3 linked regions of the Homo sapiens genome follow. The protein of the gene in region 3 interacts with the protein of the main gene of each other region in a pairwise test. Each region holds a gene or a part of one and is shown on either strand. Other genes may lie near its edges.

Evidence for each region.
Region 1: the proteins of CAMLG (region 3) and KCNE4 interact in binary tests that used the Homo sapiens proteins (3 or more experiments, as listed by UniProt).
Region 2: the proteins of CAMLG (region 3) and TNFRSF13B interact in a two-hybrid assay, tested with the Homo sapiens proteins (one study listed by BioGRID).

The regions. Positions count from the first base shown.
Region 1 is NC_000002.12:223,045,080-223,057,915, reverse strand, and holds KCNE4 (potassium voltage-gated channel subfamily E member 4), read right to left. Parts: upstream 5,727-12,836; 5' UTR 5,642-5,726; intron 5,109-5,641; 5' UTR 5,086-5,108; coding exon 4,573-5,085; 3' UTR 2,279-4,572; downstream 1-2,278. UniProt on the Homo sapiens protein: Ancillary protein that functions as a regulatory subunit of the voltage-gated potassium (Kv) channel complex composed of pore-forming and potassium-conducting alpha subunits and of regulatory beta subunits.
Region 2 is NC_000017.11:16,935,525-16,943,077, forward strand, and holds the end of TNFRSF13B (tumor necrosis factor receptor superfamily member 13B), read right to left. Parts: intron 4,988-7,553; coding exon 4,802-4,987; intron 4,274-4,801; coding exon 4,023-4,273; 3' UTR 3,557-4,022; downstream 1-3,556. UniProt on the Homo sapiens protein: Receptor for TNFSF13/APRIL and TNFSF13B/TALL1/BAFF/BLYS that binds both ligands with similar high affinity. Mediates calcineurin-dependent activation of NF-AT, as well as activation of NF-kappa-B and AP-1.
Region 3 is NC_000005.10:134,741,548-134,750,108, reverse strand, and holds part of CAMLG (guided entry of tail-anchored proteins factor CAMLG), read right to left. Parts: intron 6,123-8,561; coding exon 6,057-6,122; intron 1-6,056. UniProt on the Homo sapiens protein: Required for the post-translational delivery of tail-anchored (TA) proteins to the endoplasmic reticulum.

The sequences.
Region 1 (12,836 bases), on a different chromosome or scaffold from region 3:
GAGGCTGCCATGGGCTCAAAGCTCATTTTCTGAGCCAAGGACAAAACCTTAGCTCCCGAGATTGGCCCTAATGATCCATGCTAGTGGGCCACAGACTCCTTCCATCAAGTGACCTTAGCTGGTTATCTCCATGGTAACAGCACACATCCCAAACTGTTCCTTCCTGTGTGGGAGGAAACATTTCAGAAATGGGGGAAGGCTGAATTTAACAGTGGTTTTTCCCTCTTGTGACCCTTCTCCTTTGGCAAAGCGTGCACTTTTTCTGAGCACACAGCAGTCTCCTGAGGAAAGCGTCCATAGAAGAGGATGTTTTGTGACTTTATTTGCAGATGCATGCCCAGGACACATTTTTAAAGTAGAAGCCTGAATCTGCTTTTCTTTGAGTATTTCTCAGGGCGTTCCACCGTTCTTTGAACAACTCCCCAAAGAGAAAAGCCAGCATGCTGTCTTCTTGTTGAAAGAGAGAGCTCAGAAAGGTTAGGTAGCTTCCCCAGAGCTACAAGCAACATGGTAGCAGAGTTAGGCTAGAAAGCCAGACATAACAAGGCTGAGGCTCCACTGGCCACTATTTACACCCTACCTCCCCGCGTTTCAGGCGTAGCCTGAGCCACCATCCTGACCAACTGGCTGACAGGTCTCCCTCCAGCGCTAGACTCTGCCTCTAGTCCCATGACCGATGATATGTCCTGTGATTTTCTTCAGCACAGTACACAGACTTTAAGGAAAGGGCATGAGGCAAAAGTATGCTCTGCCTGAAGCTGGAGTTTAAGTTACATTTTAAGCTCAATGTTCTGTTTGTTCCACAATGTCTACGGTCAGAGCAGCATTTTACAGGATGATAAATTACCCTCGTTTAGCTGAATCCTAGAAGTGCATGTCTGACCATGAAACCCTCCAGTTGCAGCTCTGAAAGGCACCAGGGGGTCCACTTTCCAACCAGAATCATGAGCCAAGAGCATTCATTCCTTGGCCTGACTTCAGCCTTTCCCAGTAGATTTGATCCCATGATTCTACCAGTGAAAGAAATCTTCTACTGTGTAACATCCCTGCCTGACTCTGACGTACAAAGGTGTAATTAGAACAGTGTGGAGCAGGCAGGATGATCCATTTACCTCATCCCTAACATTTAAGTGCTTTCAAAATATGTTTTTAATATCTTAGGTGCACAGGGCCAAATTATCCTCTCAGTTTTTCACATGCATGAGTAAATCCACACAGACTAAACCCCTTGGGCCTTAGGTTCTGCTTAGAAATTCTTTTTTTTTTTTAAAGAAAACAAATATCCCATTAAAACGACAAAGTGTACTCTGCATATTTTTAGGACAATTAGAGTTTAGAATTCCCTCTCCTTCCACCCATGGCTTAAAAAAATAGAAAAATTCTTAACCATTTCCTTACGAAGAACGACATTAAACTGGGACAAATGGAAAGGCTCTCTTGCCTTTTACAGCAATCTTCTCATCTTACATCATCAAAGTACCAACTGATGGATCAGGGCCCTCGATATTGTTTGGGAAGGATCCAGGCTCCACTGTACTGTTGCCAGGTAAATTTTTTAGGTAGACAGTTACTAGTGAACTGAAGGGAAACACTTACTTGAAACAGAAAAGCCAATCTCACAGGAAACAGAGAAACATAAAAGTAAGGATGCTTCCTACCATTTGCTTGATTCAAAAACAGGTCATGCAAATAAAATTATGAAGAAGAGGCTGCCGCAGGCTGGCCACGGCCTCAGCCTGTGGGCAAGAGATACAGACAGACCAAGTGGGAGGGGCTGGAATCAGTCCCAGTCTGAAGGAGACCAGGAGAGGGAGGAGAGTCAACCCCAGCCCCACACGTCGTGCTTCACTGTGTTGGTAAGTTTGTGTTGCTGTTCATACAGCAGCTCTTTGCCCATTAGCAGGTGCTGCTGGGCCACATGTGTGGATAATATTTGCCAAGCCAACATACAGGTCAAACGTTTTCTTGCAACCAAGCTTGGAGCAACATCTTAGCAGCAGTTGACCTGTCACTGCATGTTCAAAGTCCAAAGACTCCAGGGCTGCCATATTTAAACAGAGAAGTCCATGTAAGACCATCTGCAGCTTGTTTTCCATTCATTACAAAGCATTTCAAAGGATGAAAAGCCAAGCCTCATTCACCCCATGGTTCAGACAGAAATAAGATACGCCCTCAGGAGATACTGACTTGGGAGAGGAGCAAAATCCAGAGATGTCTTGGGAAACGTATCTGTGATGTCTTCGAAACTAACAATTATATTGAAAAATCAAACAAAGAATTCATGACTTCCCAGGAGGGAAAAAATGTGTTTATTTATTTAAATTAAAAAATATTGTGAAAATTACAAAGTGTTAAATACAAAAGACAATTCTATACAACTCAACAGAATAAGAAGGAAGTATATACATCACTTTTTAATAGGTGCAGAGAGACTTGCACCAAACTTCAGGATTAAGCAATGGAAAATGTGACAAGGCACATGTCCGTCGCAGTGAAATTTCAGAATTCAAGTGATTCCAGGCAAGAGGCCAAACTTAACTTGGCTTCTTTCAACTTAAACAGCCCCCTTTGGCATAAGTCCACACTGAATTTTAAAGTGAACAGAGGGCCTTTTTCCCCCAAACATAAATTTCCTTTAGCTGTATGTCAAAGCGGACTGATAAACCAGCTCCTACACTGTTAACCCTTCCATGGCAACAGTAGTTATTGCTGTGTCTCCAATCCATGCAGAGCATTTTTCTTTAAAAAAAAAAAAAGTGGCCGGGTGCAGTGGCTCATGCCTGTAATCCCAGCACTTTGGGAGGCCGAGGTGGGAGGATCATTTAAGGCCAGGAGTTTGAGACCAGCCTGGCCAAAATGGCGAAACCCCATCTCTACTAAAAATCAAAAAATTAGCTGGGCGTGGTGGCAGGCGCCTGTAATCCCAGCTACTCAGGAGGCTGAGGCAGGAGAATCGCTGAAACCCAGGAGGTGGAGGTTGCAGTGAGCCAAGATTGCACCACTGCACTCCAGCCTGGGCAACAGAGCGAGATTCTGTCTTAAAAATAAAAAATAATAATAAATAAATAATTTTTTTAAAAGTTTTTTTAAATAGATTTAAATTTGACCTTTTACTTCCTCCTTGTCTTTAAGGGCCTAACGGATCTGCGAAACTGTTGACCACAGGAATACTTGGAGACATTGGAAGCATTCCTGTGTGTTTTCCTTTAGACTTTGCTTTCCCTTAGCTGGGAGTGTTAACATCACACATTCTCCAGAGAACTTTGCAGAGGAGAATGTGGTGTCTGCCTCTTTCCTTCAGTCCTGGGAAAACTACAGCAGGGCTGGGTTGGTAGCTTGCCCTGAATTCCCCAGTTATATGTGTTCTGAATCTCCAACTGCTCCTTTAAATCAGCAGATCCTTGTTCAGACTAACCGGCCAAAGGGGAAGCATTTGGTCCAAGCTTCCTCACACCAGGCTGTGGAATATTTATCACAGAGTCCTAAAATCTAAAGACATCCTCCCAACCCCCTGGGGATGGAGATCGTCGGGAGCCTCATGCAGACAGCGAGCTTCTTGATGACATGCCCGGGACCACACAGCAAATGAGTGTCAGGGCTCGGGATCAGGAAGCACAGAACTTGGAGCCCAGCTTTGTGCAATCTCCGCCTGAGTATGCCCTTCTAGGTCTCAGCTACGTGACGAAATACCACATTATGTCCTCTCCCAGCTCAGAAAACTAGGCTGGGAAACTGAGCAGCAGCAGAGCTAACGGCTTGGCCTTGTTCAACCCCACTTTACCCCTTCTAGAAAGATCAGGAAGAGTCTCCTGAACCACCATCGGGAGTGCAGGTTAGATTCTGGGGAAGCTCTTCTGATCCAAAGAACGTCATGCCATCATGTGATGCTGCATGGTCACAGGTCAGAGTTCAAGGTCATAAGTTAGACAAAAGGTCAAAATAGAAGATCATCTCTTATAACCCCGGCCAATGTTAACAGGTTTAAAAGTTACTTTTTTTTCTTATAGTGTGCAAATGGGCTGGGTTCAGATCTCCAGCTTTCTCCCATCAAAAATCCCCCTCTAATCCAAAAGAAGCTTGTAACCCACTGTGAAGGAATGCCACAGGTACACAGTAGAGATACTTACAGCCAATCAGATCTAGAAGGACAAAGCTCTAGGCAAAATAGCAAATCACAACTAGTCTCTCAGCGTGTCCTAAGCATTCGGCAGCCCTGGGAACAGGCAGACCCTGCAGGAGCTACCCAGGGCATCCAGTGAGAAAATGGCAAACATATCATCCCGCCAAATTCTGATCAGAACCCCAACACCCAGGCCCCAAAGTCAGTGTACGCGCTGCGCATCTCCGCGGCTTTTTCAGTGGTGGGTGCAAACCACAGGCACCTCCCGGACTCCTTGGAGGTGCTGGTTCCGGCTGAGCCTAGTCCCCCACCCCACCCCGAATCAGGGGTTTACCAAGGGTCTCTTCAAAGTGGCAGCCGCACTGTGAAAGTGAAACCAGACACTTGAAAACTGTCTTTCCTCTCTCTAAGGTTGCTGGCTGATGGAGCCACCGGCAGGGGTCCCGGGGGTGCTAGGAATTCTGATGGATGTTCTCCGAGGACCCTTCGCTGCTCTCGTTGAGGGGCGTCTCCGAGGTCTCCTCCAGCTCATCGTCTGCCCCCTCCTCCTGAATGGTGAGGTGCACGTCCGGGGAGGAGGACTCGGAGCTCACGCTGTCCCCTTCCATGGAACAGAGGGTGCAGGACAGCGCGGGCGCCACGCTCTCCTGCAGCATGTTCAGCATCAGGGGCACCTGCACCGACCTCAGGCCCGACACCACAGGCAGCGGCTTCATGGCCTCCCCCCAGAGCCGCTCCTCGTCTTTGTACAGCAGCAGGAGGCTGGACTTCTTCTCCCGCCTCTTGGATTTCATGTAGCCCAGCATGATTCCGATCAAGAAAATGCCGTAGAAGGACATGACAACCAGAATGTAGAAGTACTCGTTGCCATTGCCGCTGCCGCCGCCGGCCGCACGGGACTCCAGGGGGCTGCTGGAGGCGGCGGTGCCGGGGTGCGTGCTGTTCAGAGGCTCCATTTTCAGCATTGAGGCTGCCTCCACAGCAGGGGCTGGGGAAAAAGCCGCAGGTTAGAACTCTCCCCCAGGTCCTGGGCACAGGGAGGTGGGGGAGCACGAGGTTTGTGGAACTGCAATACCAAAAAAGCTTAAAAGTGCATGAAAGAAATAGCATAAGAGGGTTCGCCAAACAGCTGACAAGAGTGAGCTATGAGGGCTTGGAGTGCACGGGAGAGAAGCCCGGGAAGGTTCACTGGGAAAAGTAAGAAGGACTTTTTTTTTTTTTTTTAGTGTACACATTTGTCCTGTTTGTAGTGAGCAGTATTACTTTGATTAAAAAAAAAATCAATGTAAGACAGGAGCATACAGTAAATAGTATCTTTAAAACTGGGAAACGTATTTTAACTGAGCAGAAACAAAGTTTACATTGTGTTTCCAAAACCAAACTATTTTAAATTCAAAACAATGTTTCCTTAGAACAAAGAAAAGCAGGAAGAAAATAAAGGAAAAAAATTCATCTATTAATTGGCAAAAATGTCCCTCTTTCAAATGTTTCTGAAAGCAAAGTGTAGCCTTGCTGACTTACCAAGGCTGACAGTTTGTCCCAAGTTTTGAATTCCCAAATCGTCCAGTCCAAGAGGGTTCTTCTGCTCTGTCCGGCTCTGCGCTCTGACAACTCCGCTGCTGCAGTTGGGATATATAGTCAAGAAGTGCATCGTCACGTGCTCTGGGAGGAAAATTTACAACAGAGATTGATCGTGGCAGAGTGAGCAGTGAACTGAAAGCACTGCAGTTCAACTCCCTGAACTTTGCAGCTGTGAAAAGTGAAAAAGACTGGGAAGTGGGAACTGCTCCTCAAGCCCCAGCACCCGGCCAGGGTTTTCAGGTAGCGGTGACGATGAGTGAAAAGAGGAGAAAGGGATGTGCTGTGCTGGAACCGTTACCCCAAAGTCCGCGCTCACTGAAAATTAGCTCATGCTTCGCGCGGCTCCTGGGGAATAACCATTATTGGGCTACAGGTTTTCAGAGGCAGCTGAATCCCATAATCTGGATGAAAGACAGTTGGAAGCAAGTGCGGGATTTACAGTCAAGGAACTGGGGCTTCGGTTTCAGTTCTTCCACTCCTTATGCAAATAAGATAAATCCTTCCTTAACCTCTCCGCACCTCACATTCCTCGTCTGTAAAATCGTTGTGCCTGGCGGGGGGGGGGGTCTTCTGCAGGTAGGATTATATAAACCACGTGACCTTTTGAGACCCTTTCAGCTTAACCCTTCTAAGATTGAAGGCTGCCTGGTGTTGCTTAGCCCTCTAAAAGCAGAGATTCTAGCTGCCTTCCACATCAAGGTCACAAACCTATGTTTATAATAATTTTTTTTTAAAAGCTCCCACATTCTTTTCAGTGGTCTGCATTAAGTGGAAACATGTTGTCGTAAAAGATACTATGGGCAGGTTTTGTTCCGTCCTGCCATACACAGCTGCTCCTCTGAAGCCTCATGCGGAGGCTATTGACACGTCTCTTTGCTGTCTCTCGTAGGTCAGGGGAGGAGCAGGACTATTTCAGAGTGCAACTAAGCACAGTTCAAGTTTTTTAAACCTCGGTAGACCCTGTGTTTAAATGGCTGCTGTGATCAAAATTGGAAGAGGAATTGCAGGCTTTAATGTCAGTCTCTCTGCTCCCTGGGCTGCTTATTCTGAGGCTTTCATGCTAAGTGGAAGGAAACTGGGAGAGATCCACTCCCTCCAGTTGTCTGTGGCCTGTGGATTGCAGCCAGACTGTCTTGTGGGCCAACTCTAAAGGAAACATCTCTCATGGTTCTGCTGTAGTCAAACTGACGCATGCGACATCCACCTGACCTGCTTGAACATATATAGCTTAGGCACTGGAATTTTCACTGCTGCTACAGGAACCCCCCTGGGTTTGCACCTGATCCTGATTCTAAGAAGACACCTGGAGGAAGAATAGGAAGATGAACTGAATGCTGCCATTTTTCCCACTTGACTACTCACCTGTGTTCATCCATAAATCCCCAGCTGGCACTGGAGGTACCAACCATCGACCACTCCAGCATCACGATCATCCATACAGTGGAACTGTGCTCACACCAGTAAAGATACCCTCACCATTGTGTTAATACGTAAAACCCTCCATAGCTACCTCAGCCATGGTAGACTTGGTCTTTTCAACAGGTGTCCATCATAAACACTAGAACACTTCCATCTATATCTAAGCCTACACTGGAATGTCTGGGACACTAGAACAAGATGGGCCCAAGAAAGAGATGCCTGTTGATTGTTGACCCTGGTATTTTTTATTGTATACCTTAGGACATACGAGATTGGTCATCATCCAGGGATTGTCCAACACCAAAGACTGGAAGCTTTGAGTAGGCAGAAAGGAGGTGGGGATAGGAGTTACCAGATTCAAGGAGCAGGAAGTACAAAGCCTGGTGCCAGGAAGCCAAACAGAGGCTGAAGTTTTAAACATAATAAATCCCCAAACCTGAGCCAACAGTCCCAAGGGAATACAACCAAGAAAAGAGATGAGTGTGGGGAAACATCGAGAATGAATTCCAAAGGACGAAGCAAGTCAGAGCCAAAGGAAAAGCAGGACTAATTGCAGGAGTCAGGGAAGGAACAGCCCAGAAGAAATTCTGGGGTGCCTGCTTGGAGTCCCTGCTGCCCCGATTCCCACATACTTCCTGCATGGATATTTCTACTAGAGTTAAACGAGGCCAACTGCAGTGTCTTAGTTCAGTAATCCCAATGCTTGAAGAGGCTGAGGTGGATGAATCACTTGAACCCAGGTGTTTGAGACCAGCGTGGGCAACACAGTGAGACCCCATCTCTACAAAAAAATACAAAAATTAACTAGGCCTGGTGGCGAGTGCCTGTAGTCCCAGCTACTTGGGAGGCTGGGGTGGGAGGATCACTCGAGACCAGGAGTTCAAGGCTGCAATGAGGTCTGAACATGCCACTACACTCCAGCCTGGGTGACAGAGCGAGATCTCTAAATAAATAGAATAGAATAGAATAGAATAGAATAGAATAGAACAGAACAGAATAAAATAGTTCAATGAAATGATGCAAAGAAAGCACCATGTCTGGCCAAATGCACATGCTCAGTGCCTGTGTTTAGTTGTCATTGTTAGGAGTACGCTGTTGCTCCCAAGGGCTTCAGGTTGCCTCCTGTCATGTGTGTGCCCATCTCCAGACTTTTAACTCCAGACTTTTTATCACTGCTCCTTCCCCTGTCTGTCACTCCCAGGAATGGAATTTAAGAGAAGGGAATTCCAACTTCAAAATGCATAGCTCAATCTTCTTCCCAGCCCTCACTCATGACAGGGATTGCGAGAATGATGGCACTGAATAATGGCATAAAGAATGAGGGAGAGAGGGTACATCTAGAAAGTGCACTCTGTCGGGAGAGGATGGGACTGCACAAGAATTATTAATTATATCTACCCCGGGCCTCAGTTTTAGGAGACAGCAATGTTAAAGAAATAAATCAATTTCGGCTAGCATTTCCATTTCCTGAACAGTGTCTTTTCAGGAGCAAACATATCTAATTCTGATGAAGTCCAATTTATTTTAAATGTTTTTGGTTGTGCTGTTTGAATCCTATCAAAGAAATATTTGCTTAACCCAGTCATGAGGATTTTCTCCTGTTTTGCTTCTAGAAGTTTTATGGTTTCAGCCTTACATTTAGGTCTATGATACATTTCAAGTTAATTTTAGTCTAAAATGTAAGATATAGGTCAAGGATTTTGGGGAGGGGTTGTTTGTTTTTGTTTTGCTTATGGATGTCCAATTGCTCCAGCATCATTTGTTGAAAAGACTCCTTTTCCTATTTAAAATTATCTTGGAAACTTTGTTGAAAATCAATTAACCTTATATAAGCAGGTCTATTTCTTAACTCTTCATTCTGTTCCTTTGATCTATCTGTCTATCTTTGCATCGATATTATTCTGTTTTGATAAATCCATTTTAAACTTGTATTTTAAATGAGTCTAAGATACACTGCAGTTCAAATCTAGCTTAGTGTCTATCATATACCAAGTACACATAAGTCCTGTGAGGTCAGGTATTATTACAACCATTTCATAGATAAGGAAACTGAAAGTCAAAGAGTCAAAGAGGCAAAGTTGCTCCAGGTCAAATCACTAGCAGTACAGTCAGTACTTGACCCCAGATCTATGCAACTCCAAAACCCATTCTTTTTCCACTACCTTTTGTCTCACTGAATGGAAAACAAAAAGAAACTGAGAAAGAGTAGGAAGTGAAAGATGGACATTTTTCCAACTTCTTTTGAGTCTTCATAAAACTTTTTTTTTAAAAAAAATGTGAATTCTGACATAACTAGATACTCACACATAAATACACACGTGGAACTACAAGTTGTCTTTTTCTGAATTCATATTATTTTAAGTACTGGAGGCTGCACCAACCTCAGCATGTTCTAGAAGTTATCAGTGAAGCAGTAATACTCTTACCGTATACCTATGTTGTCCATAGTACAGTAGTTTCTCTGCCTACATATACAGCCTGATATGGTTTGGCTCTGTGTCCCCACCCAAATCTCACCTCGAATTGTAATCCTCACGTGTCAAAGGTGGGACCAGGTGGAGGTAATTGAATCATGGGGGCTGTTTCCCCCATGCTGCTCTCATGATAGTGACTGAGTCTCACGAGACCTGATGGTTTTATAAGCGTCTGGCATTTCCTTTGCTTGCACGCACTCCATCCTGCCACCCTGTAAAGAAGGTACCTGCTTCTCCTTTGCCTTCCGCCATGACTGTAAGTTTCCTGAGGCCTTCCCAGCAATACAGAACTGTGAGTCAGTGAAACCTCTTTCCTTTATGAATTACCCAGTCTCAGGTATGTCTTTATTAGCGATGTGAGAACAGACTAACATAAGCCTGTTCTGGTCTTCTTGTTTTAATGTGGGTTTTTTTGTTTGTTTGTTTGTTTGTTTTTTCCTATTTGATCCTGACACACACTTTCTCTAGAGCTTTGAGTACTTTCATTTCCTGGTAACGTCATTTTTACCAGATGACCCAGGAGTCCCTGGCCACACATCTCTGAAATTATGTTAACAGCTTCTGTGACTAAACAAAGTCTATGCTGGGATAACAGCATGGCTGTGAATCTCATCGGATTAAACGTAAGTCTGGAGTCCAGAAATCTGACCCAGCTCAGCCTTGCTGATGCTACGTGACTGGCTGGGTTGCATAATTGCTCTGTGTTTCAGTTTTAGCCACCCTCAGGCATGTCAAAAGTAGCATCATTAATTGTCTCAGGATCCTGAGAAATCTCCCATAATCCACTGGGCTGTCCCCCTCCTGAGCAGACCAGGCTTTGGGTCTGGCAGAATATTGCAAAATGAAATCCTCAGTGCCCACCACTGGTTTTGCTTTTCCCAGAAATTCTGTCTGAAAAGTTCTGTCTGGGAACTCGAGCAGTGGATCATCCCTTCTAATGCCCTGAGTCACCCTCCCTGGACACATACTTTTTAGCATTCCTATCACTAGAAATAAAACAGGGCTGGATATCTGACAGGTCCTTAGTAAGGTCCCCAGGCCCTCCCTGTAACACCAGCTATGCTGTGGAGGATGTGGCTATCAGCAGGTCCTGCTTAGATATCACCCAAAGGGGGTTAAGAGGGAAGAACCAGAACTCCTAAAATTAACAGTGAAGTTGGTATTAATTCACCTTTGTTATGTATTATTCAAGCATTTTTAACCTGATATTTATTTAACAAATACTTGCATAGTACCTAAAAGTGCCTCAGGAATTGCTGTAAGTACTTTGCAAAGTTTATCTTATTTAATTCTCATAAAAAGCCCTTGAGATAGGCTCTGTTATTATCCCCATTATACAATAAGGAAACTGAAGCAGAGAATGCTGGAGCAGCCTGCCCCAGATCACACAGCTAGTACATGGCAGAGCTGGCATTGGAACCCAGAGCTGAAAAAAGAGAAGGGAAAGAAAAAAAAGAGAGAAGAAAAACATTGCCTCTGCCTCTATAGACCTTACCATTGGTGAGGGAGGCAGACAAGAATCCCAAAATTGTGTGTTTAAAGTTGCAAGAATGACAAATATTGCAAAAGAGAAAGGATGCTAGGAAAGTTAATATTAAGGGGATTGAATTCCTTAGAGAAATCAGGGAGGACCCCCTAGAGGAAGTGATCCTTGAGTTGGGATCTGAAGATTGAGCAGGAATTAGCCCAGATGAAGTGAGAAGGTAAGAGAATTCTGGCCAACGGTAATCTGTGGAAAGATCCTTCGGAGGAAGAAAGTGGGGAGGGAAGAGAGATGGCAAGAATGAGGAACTAAAAAGTCTATGGGGACTCTGTCAAGGAACAAAAAGGAACCTGGTAGAAGATGCAGCAGGAGAGGCCAGCATGGGCCAGAAATGTGCCACCTGGGAGCATGAGGACAGGAGACCAAGGAAGTAAAAGATAGATTCCTGCTTTGAAGAGCTCAAGTACCAACTGGGGAGACAACCCCAAGGCCTGGGGCGAGTGTGTGATCATTCAGGACTGACTGAATGCATGATCGCTGAGCACATGCAAAGAACAAACTAAGAGCATACATGCCTGTGCACAGTTAGCACCAAGGAAACCAGAGTGAGGAGTTGACTGACTTAATGAGTGTGTTTGTGAATAACCGTGGGAACACAGACTTTGCTTCCAAGATTCTTATCAAGAGTTCCAGACAGGCCAGGCGCGGTGGCCCACGCCTATAATCCCAGCACTTTGGGAGTCCGAGGTGGGCGGATCACGAGGTCAGGAGATCGAGACCATCCCGACTAATACGGTGAAACCCCGTCTCTACTTAAAAAATGCAAAAAAATTAGCCAGGTGTAGTGGCAGGTGCCTGTAGTCCCAGCTACTCGGGAGGCTGAGGCAGGAGAATGGCGTGAACCTGGGAGGCGGAGCTTGCAGTGAGCGGAGATCGCACCACTGCACTCCAGCCTGGGCCACAGAGTGAGATTCGGTCTCAAAAAAAAATAAAAAATAAAAAATAAAAAAAAAGAGTTCCAGACAATTAAACTAAAGCTCTTGAATGTATCTCAACCACATTTCTCAAGAGCTATCAGTGGTGTGCTTAGAGTAATTCCTGAAACTTTGACAAGGTGACACAGAACTCCCAGAAGCAATAAGACAAATCAACATGTCAGTGAGTGTAGTTTTAAAAGATGGGCTTAAAAGTACGCAGATGGCAAATCCAAGTGTCAGGAACTCAGATCAGATGATGGTACAGCATATAGTTTAAGGGCACAGGCTCTGTGGTCAGGCTGCCTAGGCCTGTCTTGGTTCTTCCTACTAGCTGTGTGACCATGGGCACATTTCTTAACCTCTCTGTGCCTCTCTTAAAGAGGCATAAGAGTATCTATCTCATAAGGTTGTTGTGAGGAAGAAATAGAATTATCCACTATTGCACCTTCTGTTTAGACTGAGCGCCAAGACAAAAATACAAAAGGTTTGAGCCCCTTTCCCACATGAAGAGTGTTTTTTAAAAATTAAAAGTAGAGGATTTTTAAGAAAGAGTCATTGATGTTTTCTCTTCCCCTTCCTGGGGAAGATGTGGGGAATGGGCTGCTTTCTTCTCAAGTTAAGGGAAGTGAGGGGGTGCTTCACAGAGATCACTTGAGAGTCTCAGTGGTCTCTGTGGCCTGTAACCTGCTGGACACAGAGGACTGGGATCAGAACCACACCTAGAAAAATTTGAAGGGCAAGAAACCATGTCTGGCCAGAACTCTGGGGAGAGCTTGCTGAGT
Region 2 (7,553 bases), on a different chromosome or scaffold from region 3:
ACTGACCAGGTCCTGACTGACCAGGCTCTTGATGACCAAGCCCCCAGTAATCAGATCTCCACTTACCAGGTCCCCACTGACCAAGACCCATTGACCAAGCACCCAGTGACCAGGTCCTCACTGACAGTCCCTCAATGACCAGGCCGCCTGACCAACTCTCTGATGGCCATGCCCTTTCTGATCATATTTTTTGTGACCAAGTCCCAGTGTCCTAGTCTCTGCTTACCAGGCCTCTACTGCCAAGGTCCCTGAGCCATGGAGCTCAATGTCTTCTTTCAGTGACCCGCTTCAGTCCTCAGAGCCACCCCTCCCCACATTGGCACCCATAAGCCAGGCACTGGGGATCTTCTCAGGTCAGGGCCCCTCCTCTGGGACACAGGGAGGGGCACTCGGCCCCAGGCTTTGGGTGCCCAGCTTCATGCTCACCCCACAAAACCCTCTGGGCCCATCTCAAAGGGGGCAGTGAGGTGACCTGGCACCACCTGGACACACTGTCTGGGCCTATTCCTGAGCCACACAGCCAGAGGAACGGGGGGATGTTAGACAAGGCACCCCGCTCTGTTGGGCCTCCCAGGGCCCTTCCCTCAGAGCCCGAATCTGGTGACACAGCACAGAGGCTGCAGGGTGACCAGCCCAGAACCCTTGAGACTAGGCTGGGGACCACACAAGAACTGTCCACAGACAGCCAGAAGATGCTTTGCTAGTTTCTTGATACCTCATTTCTCACCAGCTACCCTTCCCCCACCAGGAATCCCCTTCATGCAGAGTCAATGAGGAGAGGAAGATGTCACAGAATCCGTGGAAGGAAAGAAAACAAAAGGTGGGTGGGGAGAAGAGTTGGGAGTGTAGCATTGTAAGGGTCCTATACTATGCGTATTATTTGAGGGTTGGCTGTGATTAATTAAAGGTGTTTCTTGCAGACAACCATTACACACACACTCTCACACACACACACACACATATATATATATATATACAGATATATATATGTGTGTATGTATATATATATAATAGAGAGAGAGGAGGTCTCACTCTGTCGCCCAGGCTGAAGTGCAGTGGCCCAAACACAGCTCACTATACAGCCTTGACTTCCCAGGCTCAAGCAATCCTCCCACCTCAGTCTCCTGAGTAGCTGGGACTACATGTGTGGGCCCCCATGCCTGGCTGCTTTTGAAATGGTTTGTTGTAGAAATGGGATCCTGCTGTGTTACCCAGGCTGATCTGGACCTCCTGTCCCCAAGCAATCCTCCAGGCTCAGCTGGAAGTGTTGGGATTACAGGGATGAGCCACTGCACTTGGCTTAGACATGTTTTTAAGAAGCATAAATACGAATTTCAGTGTTGCCATGAAGTCAGGCAGGGGTTGGCAAACTATGGCCCACAATCCAGATGCAGTCCCCTCCTGTCATGGTGAATAAAGGTTTATTGGAGCCACAGTTCCTCCCCTGTGTTCACTTCTTGTCTGTGGCTACTTAGGGCTGCAGTGGCGAAGCTGAGTAACTGCTGAGTAGGTGCAACAAAGACCACAGGGTCCACGAAGCCCAAGATGCTTACTACCAGGTCCTTTGCAGAAAAATCTTGCTGAGCCCTGGGGAGGGGCCAGGTGGCAGCGGGGAGGCCAGTGGGGAGGCTGGTACAGTAATCCAGGTGAAAAACGATGAGAGCTCAGATTAAAACTATCATGACAAGTGGCTGGAATCAGGATATATTTTGGGGAAAGGACCAACAATACATAGATAAAATGGACAGTATTTAGAGTTTCAGATTTTCTTTCTACCAAAGGATCCCTTTCTAAAAAAAAAAAAGAGTACAAAAGATCAATTTTAAAAACTGACCAAAGAAACACCACCACAAGATTATTTGTGTGATTGAAGCTGGGGTTGAGCCTGGGTACCTTGTGTTTTCAACACCCCTAAAACCCCGGCTGTTCCAGAGGCACCTACAGAGCCCCTTGGGTTCAGACGAGCAGAACTTGAAACCATGGATCGGAAGGAATAGAAATCTGCATATCTTTCACACAAGCCGTAACATTCTAAGCCGCATATTTGCAGGACGCTGACGTGGGGCTACTTCACCCACAGCCAGCAAGCGTCTGCGCCAGTTCTGGGATTTGTGTCCACCTTGTTGTAAGAAGGCAGCTGCTTGCGTGAGGCATGGCGGTGAGGAAACAATGCCACCCGGATCTCACCATTGGCCGTGTGGACTGGCTGTACCATGGGCCAGACGCATGTCTTGGGCAGACACTTTTTAGATGCCAACTTGCCTGTAGACAAAGATGACGCAGAGGTGGCCTCGAGGACGGCCTGTGTGATGGGTTGAATTTGTCCCCCGAAATTCCTGTGTTGATGTCCTAAGCCCCAGTGCTTGAGAATGTGATCTTATTTACAGATATCATCTTATAGAAATAAGTTAAAATGAAAAATGAGGTCAGTAGGGGGGCCCCCAATCTAACTACTGGTGTCGTTATTATAAGAAAAGGAAATGTGGACAGAGACACACAGAGGGAAGACGAGGTGAAGAGACACCGGGAAGGCCACCTACCTGCCAGGAGAGAGGCCTGGAACAGAGCCTTCCCGCACCGCCCTGAAAAGGGACCTTCCCTGCCGACACCTTGATCTTGGACCTACAGCCTGCAGGACTGTGAGACAGTGAGATTCTGTTGCTGAAGCTGCCCAGTCTGTGGTACTTTAAGGAAGCCCAAGCAAACCAATGCAGCGTGGTAGCCCACAGCTGGTGAAAAGATGGAATGAGCGACGGAGCCCCAGGCTTCCTGTCTACACCTCCCAAAGTGCGCTACGGGATCCTTTGGTGGGTGCAGGTTTGCAAGATAATTTTAGGAGGTGCAGGGTGCATAATTTCAATGTACATTATTATGGATTTATCTTACTGTGAAAATGCTTCTAAGAATAGTTTACTTAAGGTTTACATGCTACTCAAGATATAGCTTTAAATGCTAACAAAAAGTGGACTCAAATGAAAACATTCTCTTGCTGTGGTCCAGGGAATCTTGATGTTTTTTCCAGAGAGACTCGCAGCTTTCAGCTACAGCTGCCCTCCCCTTCCTGTCCACTGCACATCCCCACAACACACACACATATACATACATACATGCACAGACATCCACACGCACACACATATACGTACATGCACACGCATACATGCACACACATATGCATGCACACACCTGCACACACACACACACACACACACACACACACTGTGCGTCATGCCCTTACTAAGGAGGCATGGAAGGGAATGTGTGTCTGTAAGGAAATGAAGATGGCTCAAGCCCCTGGTTCCCTGGGTGTTTGCACAGGCACCCTCCCTGCAGACCTTTCTTTGGTCTCTTTCTCTCTCTTAGTGAAAGAGAGAAGCAGAGCCCCAGTGGGTACCCGGCTGCTTAGGGCTCAACCCAAGGTCACAAGCTTCCTCGAGAGCCTGGTGAGATGGGGGCACCACAGGGCCTCCCAAACCAAGGGGGCAGCGTTCAGTGGAGCCTGATGCCCAGGAAAGTGATAGACAAGATGTCTCAGTTCATCAAAGACCCAACCACAATGCAGTGAGGAAGGGCAGCTGCCAAAGGTTTTATTCTCCAGGAGGAGGGGCTCTCGGGGGCTGTGAGCAGCAGGCACGAGGACTTTATTGCACGTGTGGTTAGGTGATGACGACCTACAGCTGCACTGGGAACTGGGACTCAGAGTGCCCCGACCTCCTGCTCTATCTCTCTCTGTCCCTCTCTCCCTCTCTGTCTCTCTGCCTCTCTCCCTCTCTGCCTCTCTCCCTCTCTGCCTCTCTCCTTCTCTGCCTGTCTCTTTCCTTCTCTGCCTCTTTCCCTCTCTGCCTCTCTTCCCCTCTGTCTCTCTCTCCCTCTGTCTCTCTCTCCCTCTCTGTCTCCTCTGTTTCTCTCCCTCTCTGCCTCCTCTGTCTCTCTCTCCTCATATCTCTCTCCCCTCTCCCCACCTCTCTTTCTCTCTCCCCTCCTCTCCATCTCTCTCCCTCCTCCTTTCCCTCCCTGACCCCCATTTATGCACCTGGGCCCCCCTCCTGGGCAGGCACACACACAATGCCAAGGCCACTGTCTGGGATGTGTGGGCAAGGCTGCAGGACTGTGGTCCTGGTGTGGCACCCCCACCTTCCAGCACAAGTGGGGTCGGGGGTCCCAGGCGTGACTGCGCTCTCCTGCGTGGGCGCCCTGCACTCAGGGAAGCAGAAGCTGCAGGTCTCCACTGGCTCGGGGGATGTGCTCACAGGGCTGCCGGCTTCCATCGCGTGATCTGCAGAGGCGAGAGTGGAGGGCGTGGGCCAGGCCTGGCCCTGCACTAGGGTAGGGGTGACGGTGTGGGCAGCCGCACTCTCCCCCGACCCAGGAGCTAAGGGCAATCACCAGCGTAGAACGCCCCCAGACAGGTGTCAGTGTCCGCCAGTTGCTGACCAGAACCTGTGCCGGGGCAGGGGTGGGCAGGCAATTCTTGGCTCTCACTTCTGTCCAGCACCGAGCCTGCCACGCCCCCCAAGGGGACACCTCCTCCTGGGCTTAGCCCTGAAGGCTCTGCATCTGGAGAATCCTGGGCCCAGGCAAACCTGAAGACCGGCACCCCACACCCACCCTTCCCGGGTGCCACTCTCCCAGTTATCTGTCTGCCAGGATGTCTTAACCTGATTTTATCAAGGTATAGCAAGTAACAGGGATGAGCCCTGGGCCTCTCCACCTAGAAGCAGGGGCAGTGACAGGACCGAGGGATGGCCCGAGGCTTGTCACCCAAGCAGCGAGAAGGGCGAGGACCCCAGTTTCATGCACTCACCCTGGGAAGACTTGGCCGGACTTTGACGGGGCCTTGAGCGGGGCTGGCAGGAGCAGGGATCCCCCCTCTTCTTGAGGAAGCAGGCCACCGCCACCAGGAAGCAGCAGAGGACGGCACACAGGCAGAGCCCCAGCGTGCTGTAGACCAGGGCCACCTGATCTGCACTCAGCTTCAGCCCCGGGAGAGCTGCAAGACAGCATGAGACCCCTCTCTGCAGTGCCTTCTTCTCTTCCCGTCATTAGGCTCAAGCAATCCACATCCCCCCATCCCCCTGCTGTGAGCCTGTCTGGCTCCTGGAGAGGCTGGGCTCCTTTTCTGACCCTGAGGCTGCTGGGATGCTCTCTGGATCCTGGAGGAAGTTGATCCACTCCCCCATCCTGGCAGCAACTTTCTAAGGCCTCAAAGCTGGAAACGTGAGCTAGGCCTTCTTGTTGTCTCCACTTGCTAGGGCTGTAATTGGGACAGCGCTGGAGATGGGCTGATGGGTGAATCGACAGACGAACAGACGATGCTCCAGGGAGCATGTCTCTGTGCATCCTGAACTGGGCCCTTCCTCCAAGGAGAAAGCTTCCTGAGTGAGCGTTTACAGTCGTCCCTTGGTATCCATGGGGGACTGGTTCCAGGATCCCCTACAGATACCAAAATCCGCGGATGTCCAAGTGCCTGATACAAGACGGCCTGGCATTTGCATATAACCTATGCACATCCTCCTATACAATTAGAGTCATCTCTAGATTACTTATAATACCAAATACAATATAGATGCCATGTAGAAGGGTGTTATACTGTATTGTTTAGGGATAACAATGAGAAAAAATGGCTGCAGAGGTTCAGTACAGATGCAACTATCCCCTATCTTTTCTGAGTATTTTCCAGCTGCTGTTGGTTGAATCCACAGACATGGGTCGCACGACACAGAGGGCCCACTGTGTTTGAGAGTAGGACAGGCGACGTTACACTGAGACCAGGACAGCAGGTGCCAACCAGGAGGGCTTTGGGCATCAGGGCACCTGGCCACCCTATGACTCAGGACTTGTGCCTCCAGGTTTGGATGCCAGAGACAGACTCAGCCCAGGTGAAAGCCCTCCCCTTGGAAGTTCTCCTTATCCCAAAAGCTCTTCCTTGTCCCTGGAGCTGGGCATCCTCTAGGCGCTGGGTGGAAAGACAGATGAGCCAGATTTAAGATGACACGTCAAGAAGAGCGAGTCCCACTTCGTGCCGGGCACTTCCCCTACAGCACCCCCTTCATCTTCCCGCTCTGATGGCAGACAACTACCCCCATTAAAAATACTGAGAATTTGTATACCATCAAATTTGCTGTATTAAAGTGTACAACCAGTGGCTTTTAGCACATCACAAGGTTGTGCAGCAATGGCAACTGTCTAATTGGAGACAATTTTTATCACCAAACAGAAACCCTGTCTCATCAGCAGTCACTCCCCATTCCCTCTTCCCAGCCCCTGGCAACTGTTCATCTCTTTTCTGTCTCTGTGGATTTGCCTATTCCAGACATTTCATATTAATGAAATCATACAACACGTGGTCTTTTATGCCTGGCTCCTTGCACTTGGCTTTGAGTTTTCAAGGTCCACCATGTCCTGCCGTGCTGTGTATTAGACCTTCGTTTCTCTTTAGGCGGAATGGACAGACCACATCTGTTTACGCATTCAACAGGGAATGGGCATTTGGGTTGCTTCCACTTTCTGGCTATTGTGAATGACGTTGCTGTGAACATTCACATCCACATGTTTGTGTGGATGGATGTTTTCCATTTTCTTGGGTGTATACCTAGGAGAAGAATGGCTGGGTCACATAATAGCTCTGTTTTGTTTTTTGAGGACCTGCTGGACTGCGTTGCACAGCATCTGCCGTTCACACTCCATTTTACAGATGACAAAACTGAGTGTCTAAGATATTGTTCTCGGTCTTAGACCTGCACCCGGGAGCCGGTCTCACCAATTCCCAGGCCGGTGCTCCAAGCCCGCGGGCCACACAGCGGCCCCAGGGCTGGCACTGCCCGTCTTCCTCACACACGCTTTTAGATTCAGGAATCTCATAAAGTGACAGAGCTGCCAGGACTCTTAGGGGTCATCAGTGTCACTCTGACATTTACAGGGGGGAGATGGGAACTTGGGGTGAGTTCGTGTCACTCCGCCAGTCAGTGGCTGTCCTTCTGTCCAGTGCCCAGAGCTCAGAGAGGCCTAACGGAGGAAAGCAAAGACCCCAGGACCTGCAAACTTGGTGCCACATATCCAAGGCTTACCTGCTCCTATTCACCTCTCAAATCAAATGCAAACACTGCCCTGGAGGCATGAGCAGGGGAGACGCTACCAGCCCTCAGAGCACAGACAGAATGCCAGGCTACAGGTTGTTACTAAGCGGAAATGAACGGCGTTGATTCAAGGAGGAAAACTAAACATTTGTGCATATTTCAAACATTTCATCATAAGATTCTGAAACCCAGCTTTCAGAGACCATGCAAGTGTTCAGAGACCACACCCAGAGCACAGTCACCTGACATCATGCCCTGTGGACCTTCTGGGCTGGACTGGGCCTCATCCTATCCAGGAGAGTGCCATGGGGGCGAGGTTGTGCCACTCCAGGCCTCTGCCTCAAGAAGGCCTGACAGCCTCGGTGTTTGCTCCCTTGGGCCTGAGCTACCACTCGAGAAGTCCAACTGGAGAGTCCCAGTGGAGAGGGGCAAGCCCTGAGATCAGCTGGAGGGGAAGCAAGGCCTGAATATCCCAGCATC
Region 3 (8,561 bases):
TGTGTGACATAGGAGCTCACAGGAGATATAAATTACTCCAGTGTTTTATGTAAATAAAGCACAAGGAGGACTTCAGAGGAAGTAAAATTAAAAACAGGCCTTCAGGCCAAGTGCAGTGGCTCATGCCTCTAATCCCAGCACTTTGGGATGCCGAGGCTGGGTGATGGCTTGAGCCTAGGAGTTTAAGACCACTCTGGGCAACATAGGGAGACTCTGTCTCTACAACAAATACAAAAATTAGCTGAGCATGAGCCTGTAGTCCCATCTACTCAGGAGGCTGAGGTGGGAGGATCTCTTAAGAGGTTGAGGCTGCACTGAACTGAGACTGCACCACCGCACTCCAGCCCACATGACAAAGTGAGACCCCCGTCTCCAAAAACAACAACTAAAAACAGACCTTCAAAGAAGAGCAGGATTTAGACTGGCAGAAGTGAAAGTTTTTTGAAGCGTTAAGTCTCAGGACAAGTTAGAGGCAGAAGAATGCTTGGAGAACAATGAGTAATTTGTCACAGACTTATAGGAATGTAGGGCCCTAATTGTTATGCAAAGGAATCCACACTTGATTACACATCCAATAGGGTATCACTGAACAATTCAGTATACTTCTGGTGGAAGAGAGAACATTTACTTATTAATTTTCTAGTCTCATTTTTTTAAGAGATTAAAAGCTGAATTTTTCTTTATTATCACAAAATCCAATCATACGGTTTAAAATATTTTTAAATATAAAAACCTATAGTTGGCCGGGTGCAGCGGCTCATGCCTGTAATCCCAGCACTTTGGGAGGTCGAGGTGGGTGGATCACAAGGTCAGGAGTTCGAGACCAGCCTGGCCAATATGGTGAAACCTCGTCTCTACTAAAAATACAAAAAAATTAGCCAGGCGTGGTGGCACATGCCTGTAATCCAAGCTACTTGGGAGCCTGAGGCAGGAGAATTGCTTGAATCTGGGAGGCAGAGGCTGCAGTGAGCCGAGATCGTGCCACTGCACTCCAGCCTGGGTGACAGAGCAAAGCTCCATCTGAAAAAAAAAAAAAACCCTATAGTTACCTAAAAGAAATGAAAGCTTATGCTCACAAAAAGCCTCATACAAGAAAGCTCTTAGTTTTAGTCATAATAACCCCAAAACTGAAAACAACCAGGATGTCCATCTATAGGAGACTAGATAAATGGATATAGTCATACAATGTAGTATTACTGAGCCAAGAAAAAAAAAGGAATTAACTACTGATTTATCCAACAACATGGATAAATCTCAAAAATATCATGCGGAATAAAGAAGGCTTGCACAAAAAAGTAAAATCAAGAATGATCCCACTTACATGGATTACTATGCCAGACACAACTAATCTATCGTGGGAAAAAGTTCTTTGGGGTATAGGGACTGGGACTGCCTGGAAAGGAGCATGAAAGAAACTCCTGGGGTGACAGTGAAGTTATAAACCTTGAAAGAGGTATGGGTTTCATAGGATAACAAACGTATTAAATGGTACAATTAAGACAAGCATTTCAAGCAATCAATTAATTACGCTGGTACCCTACTCTTCATATTAGAACTAATTTTTTTTGTTTGAGACGTAGTCTTGCTCTGTCGACCAGGCTGGAGTGCAATGGCAGGATCTCGGCCCACTGCAACCTCCGCCTTCTGGGTTCAAGCGATTCTCCCACCTCAGCCTCCCCGGTAGCTGGGATTATAGGTACCCACCATCATGCCCGGCAAATTTTTGTAGAGATGGGGTTTCACCATGTTGGCCACACTGGTCTTGAACTCCTGACTTCAGGTGATCCGCCCATCTCGGCCTCCCAAAGTGCTGGGATTACAGGTGTGAACCACTGCACCCGGCCTCAGAACTAATTTTACCTTAAAATTTTACCTAAAAGCCAGGTGCGGTGGCTCACACCTGTAATCCCAGCACTTTGGGAAGCGGAGGTGGGCGAATCACAAGGTCAAGAGATAGAGACCAGAGACCAGCTAATTCTAGCACTTTAGGAGGCCGAGGTGGGCAGATAATCAGGTCAGGAGATCAAGGCTGTCTTGGCCAACATGGTGAAACCCCGTCTCTACTGAAATACAAAAAAAATTAGCCAGGTGTGGTGGCACATGCCTGTAATCCCAGCTACTTGGGAGGCTGAGGCAGGGGAATCGCTTGAACCTGGGAGGCGGAGGTTGTGGTGAGCTGAGATCTCGCCACTGCACTCCAGCCTGGCGAAAGAGCAAGACTCCATCTCAAAAAAAAAAAAAAAGAAAGAGACCATCCTGGTCAGCATGGTGAAACCCCGTCTCTACTAAAATTACAAAAATTAGCTGGGCTTGGTGGCGTGTGCCTGTAGTCCCCGCTATTCGGGAGGCTGAGGTGGAAGAATCGCTTGAACCTGGGAGGTGGAGGTTGCAGTGAGCCAAGATTGTGCCACTGCACTCCTGCCTGGTGACAGAGCGAGACTCCGTCTCAAAAAAAAAAAAAAATGCCGAGCATGGTGGCTCATGCCTGTAATCCCAGCACTTTGGGGGGCCGAGGCAGGCGGATCATGAGGTCAGGAGATCGAGACCATCCTGGCTAACACGGTGAAACCCCGTCTCTACTAAAAATACAAAAAAAAATTAGCCGGCCGTGATGGCGGGCGCCTGTAGTCCCAGCTACTTGGGAAGCTGAGGTAGGAGAATGGTGTGAACCCGGAAGGCGGAGCTTGCAGTGAGCCGAGATGGCACTCCAGCCTGGGTGACAGAGCAAGCCTCGTCTCAAAAAAAAAAAATTACCTAAAGAACCTTAAAACAGTAAATTGTAAGTCAGTGTTATGTAAGAGGGGTGAGGTATACCGATGTGTACACCTACAACATACTTTGAAATGCATCAAGAAAAATTTGATGGAAAAACTTTACAGAGATTATCTTGGGTTTGAAAAATAAAAGAAAACCTGATAGATACATAATATAATAAGATGTTAATTGTAGAATCTAGGTCGTTGGTATTATATAAATGGGTGTTCACGGCACAATTCTTTCAACTTTTGTGTTTATTTATTTTTGAGATGGAGTCTTGCTCTGTCGCCCAGGCTGGAGTGCAGTGGCGCTGTCTTGGCTCACTGTAAACCTCTGCCACCGGGTCAGCAATTCTCCTGCCTCAGACACTGAGTAGCTGGGATTACAGGTCTGTACCCACCATGCCAAGCTAATTTTTGTATTTTCAGCAGACATAGCGTTTCACCATGTTGGCCAGGTTGGTCAAGAACTCCCAGCCTCAGGTGATCTGCCCACCATGGCCTTCCAAAGTGCTGGGATTACAGGCGTGAGGCACCACGCCTGGCCAACTTTTGTGTTTAAAAACTGCTATAACAGGCCAGGTGCAGTGGCTCACACCTGTAATCCCAGCACTTTGGAAGGCCCAGGTGGGCAGATCACCTGAGGCTGGGAGTTCCAGACCAGACTGACCAACACGGTGACACCTCGTCTCTACTAAAAATACAAAAATTAAGTGGGTGTGGTCACTCACACCTGTAGTCACAGCTACTTGGCAGGCTGAGGCAGGAGAATGAACACAGGAGGCGGAGGCTGCAGTGAGCTGAGATCGTGCCACTGCACTTCAGCCTGGGCGACAGAGTGATACTCTGTCTCAAAAACAAACAAGCAAAAAAAACCCTGCTATAACAAAATGCTGTTTTGTTGGGAGAATATATAAAGTCTCCCTTTTCTCTCTTCCATTTACATAGTACCCATATATACATCTCTATCACACACATAAGTATTGTTAATAATTTCATGTATAGTCTTTCAGTTTGTTTATGCATATATAAGCAAAATCAAATAATACATTATTTTTTCTTTTCAAAAAGAAATTAGTATAGATTCTATAGATTCTATTCTGAATTTTGTTTTTTTTTCTCTTAATATTTCTTGGAGAGCTTACCATTGTCAGTACATTGAGAGCATCTTCATTCTGAATAGATACGTTATAATTTTTTTTTTTTTTTTTTTTTGAGATGGAGTTTTGCTTTGTTGCCCAGGCTGAAGTGCAATGGTGCGATCTCGGCTCACCACAACCTCCACCTCCTGGGTTCAAGTGATTCCCCTGCCTCAGCCTCCTGAGTAGCTGGGATTACAGGCATGCGCCACCATGCCTGGCTAATTTTGAATTTGTAGTAGAGACGGGGTTTCTCCATGTTGGTCAGGCTGGTCTCGAAATCCCGACCTCAGCTGATCCGCCCGCCTCGGCCTCCCAAAGTGCTGGGATTACAGGCATGAGCCACCGTGCCTGGCCAATTTTTTTTTTTTAATGTAGTCACTCAGTGGACATTTAGGTTCCAAACTTTGCTACTGCAAAACTACAATCAATGTTTCAAAGGTGATTTTCTTTTTTTTTTTTTGAGACAGTCTCGCTCTGTTGCCCAGGCTGGAGTGCAATGGCACAGTCTGGGCTCACTGCAACCTCCACCTCCCAGTTTCAAGTGATTCTCCCTGCCTCAGCCTCCCAAGTAGCTGGGATTACAGGCACCCGCAACCATGCCTGGGTAATTTTTATATTTTTAGTAGAGATGGGGTTTCGCCATGTTGGCCAGGCCAGTCTCGAGCTCCTGACCTCAGGTGATCCACCCCCCTCAGCCTCCGAAAGTGCTGGGATTAGGGCGTGAGCCACGGCGCCCAGCCTCAAAGGTGAATTTCTTTCTTTTTTTTTTTTTTTTGAGGAGTCTCGCTCTGTCGCCCAGGCTGCTGGAGTACAGTGGCGCAATCTCGGCTCACTGCAAGCTCCGCCTCCCAGGTTCACGCCATTCTCCTGCCTCAGCCTCCCGAGTAGCTGGGACTACAGGTGCCTGCCACCACGCCCGGCTAACTTTTGTATTTTTAGTAGAGATGGGATTTCACCCTGTCAGCCAGGATGCTCTCGATCTCTTGACCTCGTGATCCACCTGCCTCAGCCTCCCTAAGTGCTGGGATTACAGGCGTGAGCCACCGCGCCCCGCCTCAAAGGTGAATTTCTAAACAAATGCTTAATTAAAATTACAATGTTATTTACTCTTTTACTTCTTATATTTGACCTATTTGACCCTTCAAAAATACAAATGCTTCAAATCCATTAAAATCATACACAGGTCTGTCAGCCCATTAAATATAACACGCAGACAGCCAAGTAGCAATTTTTTCAGCAAAAAGCTCCCACAAAATTCGATCACACTAGTTAGGCTATCGTCTATGTCAGGCAAGCCAAGCCTCATAAAACTGTATATATCTGTAGTCAAGTAGGCCAGGTAAACATTGACTCTCAACATCATTCTGTTCTGTAATATTGGCCAAATATTTATTGCAAATATCAGGCCCTCAACACTGAAGATAAAGTGCACTGCTATTAAGTGTCCAATATGAAGTACAATGAGATAATCAAATCCATTTTTTAATTAATTTCCTTTATTATAGACAAAATGAATTACTAAATTTACTAATTAAATTTAATACTTTGCTTAAACAAGTACTATTCACACTTTTTCATGAAGGACCTCAATCCACAGTATTTTTGTAAAACAGAATAACAATGTTATGGCAATGTCAAATTGCTATAAAAGTTTCTAATTACTCTTTTTTTTTTTTTTTTTTTGGAGACAGAGTCTCACTCTGTCACCCAGACTGGAGCAGTGCAGTGGCGCAATCTTGGCTCACTGCAACCTCTGCCTCCTGGGTTGGAGCAACTCTCCTGCCTCAGCCTCCTGAGTAGCTGGAATTACAGGTGTGCGTCACCATACCTGGCTAATTTTTGTATTTTTAGCAGAGATGGGGTTGCACCATGTTGGCCAGGCTGGTCTTGAACTCCTGACCTCAGGTGATCCACCCACCTCAGCCTCTTAGAGTGTGGGGATTACAGGCGTGAGCCACTGCGCCCGGCCAATTACTCATTTTTTGAACTTAATGTATAACAAACACAAACACATAGTTTGGAGATAAGTGGGCAAACCACACTTTGAGTAGCACTGATTCAGACCGTAAGCAGGACTAACATTTTTAAGTTCCTTCAATTAGCTAGTCATAAATCAATCCAAACACATCATCGAAATTTAGAAAAAAAATTAATTTACCTTGGGAAAATATTTGTATAATCCCATGTACGCAAGTTGTAAAGTAAGAAATGGAGCAAATATGGACTGTGAAGATAGAAGATAAAATTAAATATTTCCAACATAATCATTCAAATCACAATAAATCAAACAGCAGCTAGAAAATTCCAAGCAAAAGCTGTAAGAAAATGTTGTTATTATTATTTTTTGAGACGGAGTCTTCCTCTGTCACCCAGGCTGAGTGCAGTGGCACGATCTTGGTTCATGGCAACATCCACCTCCCAGATTCAAGCGATGCTCGTGCCTCAGCCTTCTGAGTAGATGGGATTACAGGCGCCCGCCACCACACCTGGCTAATTTTTGTATTTTTAGTAGAGACAGGGTTTCACCATGTTGGCCAGTATGGTCTAGAACTCCTGACCTCGTGATCCACCCACCTCGGCCTCCCAACATGCTGGGATTACAGGTATGAGACACCGCGCCTGGCAATTGCTTTTTTTTTTTAAGATGGAGTCTCGCTCTGTCACCCAGGCTGGAGTGCAGTGGCTCAATCTCAGCTCACTGCAACCCCTGCCTCCCCAGTCCAAGCAATTCTCCTGCCTCAGCCTCCCATAAAATAGTAATTTTAATGGTTAAAAGTAATCTTTTTTCTGCAGAAGGGTGAAGAAAATAAAATATTTGATTTCCTAACATAAAATATGTTTCTCAAGTCATACAATTCTTTCATATTCTTTTAGCGTCCCCAAAACTGTCTTCTCTCATAAAAACTTATCTTTTAAATTATTTAAAGTATTAAATGGTGACAGATGTTTAACACAGTAACACAGATGCGGTAACATCTCGGTCACCCAGAGGGAATTAATTGATATCCAGGAAGCATACAGAAAAGGCCCAGCACTCAAAATACGTGGCATTCTTCCAGCTATGCAGAAGGCTGAGGCAGGAGGACTGCTTGAGCCCAGAAGTTCTAGTCCAGCCTGGACACCATAGCAAGATCCTATCTCTAAAACAACAACAACAACAAAACTAAATGCTTGGCTGGGTGCGGCGGCTCATGCCTGTAATCCCAGCACTTTGGGAGGCAGAGTTGGGTGGATCATGAGGTCAGGAGATGGAGACCATCCTGGCTAACACGGTGAAACCCCATCTCTACTAAAAATACAAAAAATTAGCCGTGCGTGTTGGCACATGCCTGTAGTCCCAGCTACTCGGGAGGCTAAGGCAGGAGAATCGCTTGAACCCAGGAGGTGGAGGTTGCAGTGAGCCAAGATCACATCACTGCACTCCAGCCTGGCGAAAGAAACTCCACCTCAAAAAAAAAAAGATTTACAAAAACTGTTTTGCTTAATGATATAAACTTTAATTATCTGGATATTTATGTGCCTGGTACATATACTTAAAATGTCTACTGAATGGAAAAACCTCAGAGCAAGACACTGAACTATGAGCTATGCTTTTCTGCATTCTTTAATATACTATAAAACAAAATGACTACATCATGGTACAACCAAAATGGACTCATTATGATATATTAGGAAATGCTGAAATGTCTTCTGAACCATAGGAAGATTACCTCATATTCAGGACCAGAGGAACTGCATTTTACTATTTCAAATTATTTGAAAATTGATAATATACAGTATATATATGTAAAGCACTTAACCCTTTGGTTAAGGACTGAAACTGCCAGGGTTTAATCCTAGCACCGCTTAGTAGCTGTGTGACCTTGGGCAAATGGTTTAACCTCTCTGAGTCTTCATTTCCCAATGGATTCACATAATACCAAGTTCATAAGAATGAGGATTAGATGAATTAATGTATGCAAAACAATGAGAAAGGTCCGTAGAATGAAAAATGGGTTTTAGTACAGTCATCCCTCAGTATCAGCAGAGGACTGGTACCAGGTTCCTCCTGATACCAAAATCCATAGATGCTCAAGTCCCTTATGTAAAACGGCACAGTAAATATAACCTACTCACTTCCTCCCATATACTTTAAATCATTTCTAGATTTTTTATGCCTAATGCAATGTAAATAGTTGTTATACTGTTTTTATTTGTATTATTTACTATTTGTTATTGTTGTATTGTTATTTTTCCCCCAAATATATACACATACATATATTTTTGAGACGGGGTCTCACTCTGTCACCCAGGCTGGAGTGCAGTGCCGTTATCCTGGCTCACTGCAACCTCCACCTCCCGGGTTCAAGCGATTCTCCTGCCTCAGCCTCCCAAGTAACTGGGATTACAGGCGTGCACCACCACGCCCGGCTAAATCCAAATATTTTCAATCCACAATTGGTTGAATCCACATAGGGTGCAGAACCAACTGATATGGAGGGCCAACAGTAATTATTAGGCTCTGTATTTAACCAGAACACTTCATTCTATGAGATGAATAGCAAAGTTAATAATATATCTTCAAACAGCCACATGGATCTGGTAGATATTAATACTGGCAATGACTTCTATGATCAAAAGCACTCATAATTATTAACATTTTGCATTTTCCATTAAGTTAGTT